2 linked regions of the Homo sapiens genome follow. The protein of the gene in region 1 interacts with the protein of each later gene in a biochemical or structural test. Each region holds a gene or a part of one and is shown in the gene's direction. Other genes may lie near its edges. The genes, in order: HELB and POLA2.

Evidence for each region.
Region 2: the proteins of HELB (region 1) and POLA2 form a complex in vitro, tested with the Homo sapiens proteins (one study listed by BioGRID).

The regions. Positions count from the first base shown.
Region 1 is NC_000012.12:66,300,815-66,304,726, forward strand, and holds the start of HELB (DNA helicase B), read left to right. Parts: upstream 1-1,678; 5' UTR 1,679-1,789; coding exon 1,790-1,976; intron 1,977-3,912.
Region 2 is NC_000011.10:65,292,773-65,296,684, forward strand, and holds part of POLA2 (DNA polymerase alpha subunit B), read left to right. Parts: intron 1-1,000; exon of another isoform or gene 1,001-1,380; coding exon 1,381-1,489; exon of another isoform or gene 1,490-1,773; coding exon 1,774-1,880; exon of another isoform or gene 1,881-2,767; coding exon 2,768-2,827; exon of another isoform or gene 2,828-2,852; intron 2,853-3,091; coding exon 3,092-3,218; intron 3,219-3,912. UniProt on the Homo sapiens protein: Accessory subunit of the DNA polymerase alpha complex (also known as the alpha DNA polymerase-primase complex) which plays an essential role in the initiation of DNA synthesis.

The DNA.
Region 1 (3,912 bases):
GGATCACTTGACTTTAGGAGTTCAAGACCAGCTTGAGCAACACAATGAGACCTTGTCCCCCCACCCCCCAAAAAAAAAGAGAGAAAGAAAAAAAAGTTTAACATCTAGAGATCTAGAGTTGATTCTTGTGCCCAAGTCATCATGTTGGTAACAAGAATATCCCATGTATATACTCATAAGTGACCCAGATTTGGGAAGCCAATGATAAGTTGCAGTTTAGATATGCTGAGTCTTAAGTAGCCAAGGGGCATCCAGTAGTGACTGACAGTGTTTAGGCAGTTGTTTGTATGGTTTGGAGATCAGATTAGGCTGAGTCATTAGCATGTAGGTGAAGGATGATTGAGGAAAGGATTATAGAGCAAGAAGATGCTTGGGATGGAGCCTTGGGGAATAACAGTACTTACAGGCAAGCAGAGGGGTCCAAGACTGTAAATAGCCAGAAAGGAGAAAAATCTGAGAAGGCAAGCTGCAAAAGCCCCGGCAGCAGAATGCTACAAGAAGAAAATACTTATCAGTATCAAATACTGCTGAGAGGTCAGGTAAAACAAAGGCTGAAAAGTATCCACTGGTTTTTGAAACGAAGAGGACAGTAAGTGTGACATTTGTCAGAGGAGATTCAATGTTGTGGTGGAAACAGTAGCCATGTGAATGTCAAAGGAATTCAACCTCATATAGCCAATCCTTGGAAACACTGGTGTTTTGTCAGCTGCAACAGTATTTCTTTTAAAAGCAACAAAAGTGGGCATTTTTCAATTGGTACCCAAAGGAAAAGAAATCAATTTTTATATTTTCTCCTATACATTTTTCTTAAATATTTGGTGCTAGTTGTCGTTTATATATATTTAAATATAGCATCAGGTGCTTTTGGATTTAGTAAATAGTGTGTGTTTAGTTATTTCAGGAATAATCCCAAAATAAACAGTATCAATACAGTAATGTAGTAATATATTTATGGTATTTCTTAAATAGTACCAAGACTTTCAAGTACCATCCTCATCAAGTAAGAGAATCATAGCCCCATAATAGTTTTTAAAACCACGTTCCTTTCTCTTCTATTTCCCTTCTCCTATTCCTGTCTATACTCTGGGCTGCAAAGAGACACTTTTGCCCCACTGTCAGCAGGTAGCAGCCCAGCTTAAATAAGTTTGGGAGACCAGGGTGTACTCACAGAGGAAAGGATAAAAATAACTTTGAATGTTATCTAATCCAGTGGTGTCCAAACCTAGCTGAGCATCAAAATGGACAGCCCGGAATGTACATTAAAAAGACAGAATTCTAGGTCCCTGCCCTAGATCCGATTCCAGAAGGGCATCTGCTATACTTTCGTTTTGGGAAGGTTGGGGTGGGGGTTGCTTTTCCAGGTTCTTCAAGCTCAGCAGAAGTGGACTTTCTCCCCGTTCTCTCTCCGCAGGAGATGCCGTGCACTGGCGGTTCTGCAGGTGCCACGCCTGTCACTCCCCAGCGCTGATTTCGTCCCAGCACCTTCCTGATAATCACCGCCCAGCACCAGGCTCCAAAAGGAGCGGAAGCCCCGCCCATCTCCCAGCCCCTCGCTCTCCCTTCCCCGCCCCTAACCCGCCTTGCCCCGCCCCTTCCACATGCCCTCCCCTCGGCAATTCCTGGAAACTTGGGGCGGAGCTTCGCTGCCTTTCAGGTTTTATGTACGCTGGCGGCCGCCAGGCCGTTCCCGGAAGTTGATGGCCTTACAGTCGTAGAACTGATTGGCTGATCATGACCATGCAGTTAGCCAGGGTTTTCCCGAGTTGTTTGGGTTGAGTTCAGGAGAAGCATGGCCAGGTCGAGTCCGTACCTGCGCCAACTTCAGGGACCTCTGCTCCCACCCAGGGATCTGGTGGAGGAGGACGACGACTACCTAAACGACGACGTGGAGGAGGATGAAGAGTCCGTGTTCATCGACGCCGAGGAGCTCTGCAGTGGGGGCGTAAAGGCTGGCAGCCTCCCCGGGTGCCTCCGCGGTGAGGAAGGCGTCTGCCCGGGGGATGGGGTTGGAGGGTCCAAAGTAGCGCTTCCCATTCTGGCTTTGCCCTGAGCAAGGCACCCAGTCGTGCTAACAGATTTAGCTTATCAGTGGTCTAGCTGCTTCATCCTACCAAGGGTAAAATTATGACTATAATAATAGCAGTGACTTTAACTGGACACATACTATGTGGTTTTTTTTTTTTTTTCTTTTTTTGAGCAGCAGCAAGATTTATTGCAAAGAGCGAAAGAACAAAGCTTCTACAGTGTGGAAGGGGACCCGAGCGGGTTGCCCTTTTTTTTTTTTTTTTTTTTTAAAATTATTCTCATTTTAATGGTCGTCCTTTAATTTAATGTACCTTTAATGTAAGGTAGTTTTACGCTTAAGGAAACAGTGGATGTTGAGTCTCTATTTCCACCCAGAATCGGAACTTTTATTTTTCCTTCTGACCACTTATCCTCAAGTTCTATAGAATGAGAACTTGTAATTATTATCCTATATTGCCTGGAGTCAAATACGTGGTTCTTCCTCAGCTTCTTGGAAAAACAAAACAGTCCGGGCGCGGTGGCTCACGCACTTTGGGAGGCCGAGGCAGGTGGATCACTTGAGGTCAGGAGTTCGAGACCAGCCTGACCAACATGGTGAAACCTGTCTCTAGTAAAACAACAACAACAACAACAAAACTACAAAATTAGCCGGGCGTGATGTCGCACACCTGTAATCCTAGCTACTTGGGAGGCCGAGGCAGGAGAATTGCTTGAACCCAGGAGGTGGGGGTTGCAGTGAGCTGAGATCACACCATTGCACTCCGGCCTGGGCAACAAGAATGAAACTCCATCTCAAAAAACGAAAAGGAAAGAAAAGAAAAAGAAAAACGAAACACAAGGAACACCTCAGTGCACAGATGATTGTTAATTGGTGTTAGTAACCTTGTGGTTCGGGTAAACCTTGTATAAGTAGTTTCCTGTGCTATGAGGTAGTTTCCTGTGCTATAAGTTATACCTGTTATGTATACTTTGTGACTGAGACTTAAAATATTTTAATGTGCCGACCGGTGCTGTTCAGTAGAACTTTCCATGATCATGGCAGTGTTTTATATCTGCACTGTCTGGTATAATAGCCACTAGCCATATGTAGCTGTTTAGAACTTGAAATCCAGCTAGTGTAACTGAGGAGAGAAATTTTAAGTTTTATTACATTTTAATTTAAATAGCCACGTGGGTGGACAGCGCAGATTTAGGCAGAAAAGTTTCAAGTATTTGTGGAGGGCTTAGTCGTCATTCTAAAGTATCATCAACTGGCTAGCATGTTTGGTGCTGGGAAAACCTAGAGAAATAAAATAACAAGGTTGCAGTCTTAATGAAGCTTACCCTCTAGTGTATTAAACAAACATTCTTTAATCACAGAAGTAACTATAATGTTACTAAATGCTTAGAAGGAATGCTAAATAGTGCTTTGAGAGGTTTTATACATGAGATTCAGGGAAGACTTTTCTAAGTAAGTGATAGTTAAGCTGAGGTCTGTAGTAAATGTAGTAAACAGTAAAGGGGAGATCAGTTAAGGCAGATGGAATAACTTGAGTGAAGGGCCATGGCATTTTAAAGAAACTGCATGAAGGCCAGTATTGGCTGAAGTCAAGAGTAGCAGAGAGGGGACTGATTTTAGAAGAGGAACAGCAGACACCTGCTGTGTACTGTGCTTGCGTTTTGGAATACAAAGACAAACGAAACAGTGTCCTGTTTTAGTATTTACAGTGTAGTGGAGGGAGACAGAAAAAGAGGTAGGCAGAATGCAGTGTTACAGGCACCCTACCAGACATCTTTAGAGAGTGCTGTAGGGAGATTAAAGATAGTGGTAAGTTTGATGAAACTTTGAGGAAACGGTTTCTAAATAATCTCCAGAGTTAACTTTTGTGGGTTTTTGTTTGTTTTTTT
Region 2 (3,912 bases), on another chromosome or scaffold:
AGCACCTTTATCACATGTGAAAGTGTATGTATGCCTGAGAAGTCCACATGTTTTAAGCAAGAGACAGAGATGGAAGTGAGAGCTATTGGTGGATTTTAAACATGCCCGCAAAGTAATACCTTATGCCTATTTGATTTATAAACGGCCCCTCTGCCAAGGTCATCTTAAGGGAACCAAGGAAACGGGGCTTTCTTCCTCTTTTGTGTGGCTGGGAAAAATAAATAGTTGGCCCCCAGAGTTACAACTTTCTTCTTCACTTGTATGTTGTAACCCTAGAGATTCTCCTGCTCCATCAAAGGAAACATCTGCTGTCATCTGTGCTTTTACTGTTGCTGTTAAATATTTCTTTCATTTTTGCATGACAACCTGCTGAGAAATAGAAACTCAGGGCATTATTTCCATGTGTGAGAGGGGAGGGATGCGATGGCTCAGGGAGAGGCCGCTTGGGCTTTTCTGCCTCCCACTGGAAATGTCTGTGTCTCGGTTGTCCAGTAATTATGGCCCAGTGTTCAGTCAGTCAGAGGGTTTCAGCTGGATCTTCTAAATACGAAGCCAGGCCAGGTGTGGTGGCTCACACATGTAATCCCAACACTTTGGGAGGCCAAGGTCGGTGGATCACTTGAGGCCAGGAGTTTGAGACCAGCTTGGCCAACATGGTGAAACCCTATCTGTACTAAAAATACAAAAATTAGGTGGGTGTGGTGGTGTGCACCTGTAGTTGTAGCTACTCGGGAGGCTGAGACACAAGTATCACTTGAACCCAGGAGATGAGGTTGCAGTGAGCCCACATCATGCCACTGCACTCCGGCCTGGGCGACAGAGTGAGGCTCTGTCTCAAAAAAAAAAAAAAAAAAAGCAGTCTCAGGGTCTTTTTAGTATGCCTGCCTTCTCCCTAGGAAAAATGCCCCAGCTCCATGCACCCTACCAAGGTGTGGCAGGGACACTGTTTACTGCCTGCAGGCTACACCTGCTTAGAAGGTGTAATGAGTCCAAGCTGTGGTTTAAACTCTGGCTCTGAGGCTGTGATTCTTTATTCACATCCTTGTCTTTCTAGACTTTCTAGATCTCCATTTCTTTGCCCCTTTTTCTGCCAAAAAATAGTCTCCATCCTCTCAGTAGAAAGCCACACAGAGCAACAAGAAAGTGTCCCAGGCAATCGGAGCCTGTCCAGATGGATGGGTGTGAAGTAGAACAAACTGTCCTTTACTCCCAGTGTCCCATGGGAAACAGCGTCTCTGTTCATAACAGAGTGCAGTTCTGAGCTGCCTCCCTCGGGGTGGGCTCTGCCTCCAGCCTGAGGCATCCCACCTGTTGCGCAGCTGTTCTAACTCAACTGCACTCACTTTTCTCACTCTTCTGTTTGTTCTTTTGCCATACTAGCTCCGGCTCCCACCTTGTCTTTGTCCCGTCATTGAGAGATGTGCACCATGAGCCTGTGTACCCCCAGCCGCCTTTCAGCTACTCCGATCTGTCTCGAGAGGACAAAAAGGTAGCAGCACCCACTCCTTGACCAGCAGGCAGCCAGAATCCAGCATGCCTCTGCCACTAGCTCTGGCCCTGAAGGGGAGGGTGGAGAGGCCTCTTTAGGGTGTGCGTACAGCCTGAATCTTAAACTCCTTTTTTTAAACAGGCAAATGTGTCCAAAAGCTTGATGTATGTTGGTTTGGTCCCCCTTTCCGTGGTCTCCCCAGCCCTCAGACAACCCCCACTTTCATGGGAAGATGTTTCTAGCTTTGGCATACAAATGTTTGTTTCAATCCGTTCTCATTTTAGCAAGTACAGTTTGTGTCCGAGCCCTGCAGCCTCTCCATAAACGGAGTGATCTTCGGCTTGACATCCACAGATCTGCTTTTCCACCTGGGGGCCGAGGAGATCAGTAGGTAAGAAGTGTGTTCCAGGCCCCAAGCAGGATGACTGGCTTTCTGGTCCCAGCCCTTTCTGCAGCCAAGAAAATCAAGGGGCTGCTTAACGGTCTTGACCAGAGAGAGCTGAAAGCAGCAAGCTGTGCCAGACCCTCTAGCCATCTGAGTTTCTCTGTACCCAAGGGGAGGGGTTGGATGCATTAGTTTCTGTTACCACCTCTCTAAACTGCGTTTGAGACCCCAAAGAACCACGTCCATTCTGTCTTTGCACTTAAAGGCATCAAAATTCATCTACATTTTCTTTTCTGCTCCCCTTTTTTTTCATTTCCCAAATTTGTGACCTGAAAACAAATGTGGACATCCTGTTTGTGGAGGATAAACTGGGAATTTTCTCTGAAGGATTTTCTTCACTACCAGTACAACATCCAGCTCTGCAGAGAATCAGGCCCTGACAAATTTGTTGAGTTGAAGTTGGGCAGCTCCGTTCTGCCGTCATCCTTGATGGGAAGGGGCATGTGAAGCGACTCGCGTGTGAAGCGAGACGGGTGCGGCTCCTTGGCTGAGGTTTGAGATTCAGGTCAGCCTGGCTACACACCCGCCTCATGATGGTGCCAACTTTGCATCCTCTTGCACAGTACGGTGCTGGCTAATGGCCTTCCTTGATCTTGATTATGAGGGATTCCTGTGCTTTCCCTTCTCAACCTGGTGTCCTGCGTCCCTCCTCATGTGGGGACAGACTGAGCTCCTTGTGGGTGGGTCTTTAAACTTCCCCAGAGGCATCCTCCTCTTGTTGCTGTGCCTTGGCCATTTACCTTCTCTCTGGTTTATTAAATTCTCCAGTCCTCCCTGAAGAGAAATGGGCTGAAAAACAGAGTTCTGTTTTCATGCTTTCTTTTCTTTCCCAGTTCTTCCGGAACTTCAGACAGATTCAGCCGAATACTCAAGCACATCTTGACCCAGAGGAGGTGAGCTTGCCGCTGGGACCCCTGACTGTGGAGAGAGTGCCTTGGGGTCATGGAGCTATGACAAGCATGACTGTAAGAGCCTTCACCAGGCTACCAGCAGGGAACTTTACCCTGTGATGACAAGCCTGCATTCTGCCCCACACACACAGAGAAAAAGTCGGTCTGTGGATGCCAGCAGCACGAAAGCCAGTACCTAGGGGGACTCTGTCTGAGAAGGGGGCCCCCCGGTCAGCTAGTGCTGACAATTTCTCTCTGTCTCTGTAGCTACTACCCACTCTACCCGCCCCAAGAAGACATGGCCATTGACTATGAGTCGTTCTATGTTTACGCACAGCTGCCTGTCACCCCAGATGTCCTCATCATCCCGTCAGAGCTGAGGTACTTCGTGAAGGTAGGTTTGAACTCTGCTTTTTCCCAGAAACACCAGAACCCAGTCTTTGACTTTCCCTTCTAGACCACCCGGCACTCACCCCTCATGGGTCAGCTGATGGGGATGGGGCCTCTAGCACCCTGCCCTGTGGCCTTGTTTCTTTGGGGAGGTGGTGGGACCAGAAAACAAACAACTCTGTCAGTAAAATGCTTGAGTAAACAGTGTCCTCTCCTCCCTCCCCAAGAGAACGAGAGCCCAGATGACTAGGAAGGCCCTCAAATGAGGGCTTTCACCAGGCCACATAGAGGTGACCTGGGGAAGATTTCATATGTACACTTGCCTGTCCTCTGCCTCCCAAATTCTGATATGACCTCCAAGTGGGCTCAGCTGGGAATACCTTGAAGAAGCTATTGGGTCATTTTGATCTCTGCCACCCTTTAGCCCTGCCTGCCTTGGAGTTAGGTCCCTTACAAGGAATCTGCCTAGACCAGTCCCCCTCTTGCCAAACAAGAGTTAGTTCAATCTCAAGAGGTTAAAAAAAAGTTTTTCACATGAGAAAGCAGTAAACAGCTAGATCAGGTTTGTCTCCAAGTTTAGGAGCTGATTGTCATTCTGCCAAGTCACCTCATTCTTCTGTTTGAAAGACTTAAAAGGAATTCAAAGCTTTCTAGTGACAAGTTAACATATGTGACTGAGGCCGGGCGCAGTGGTTGAC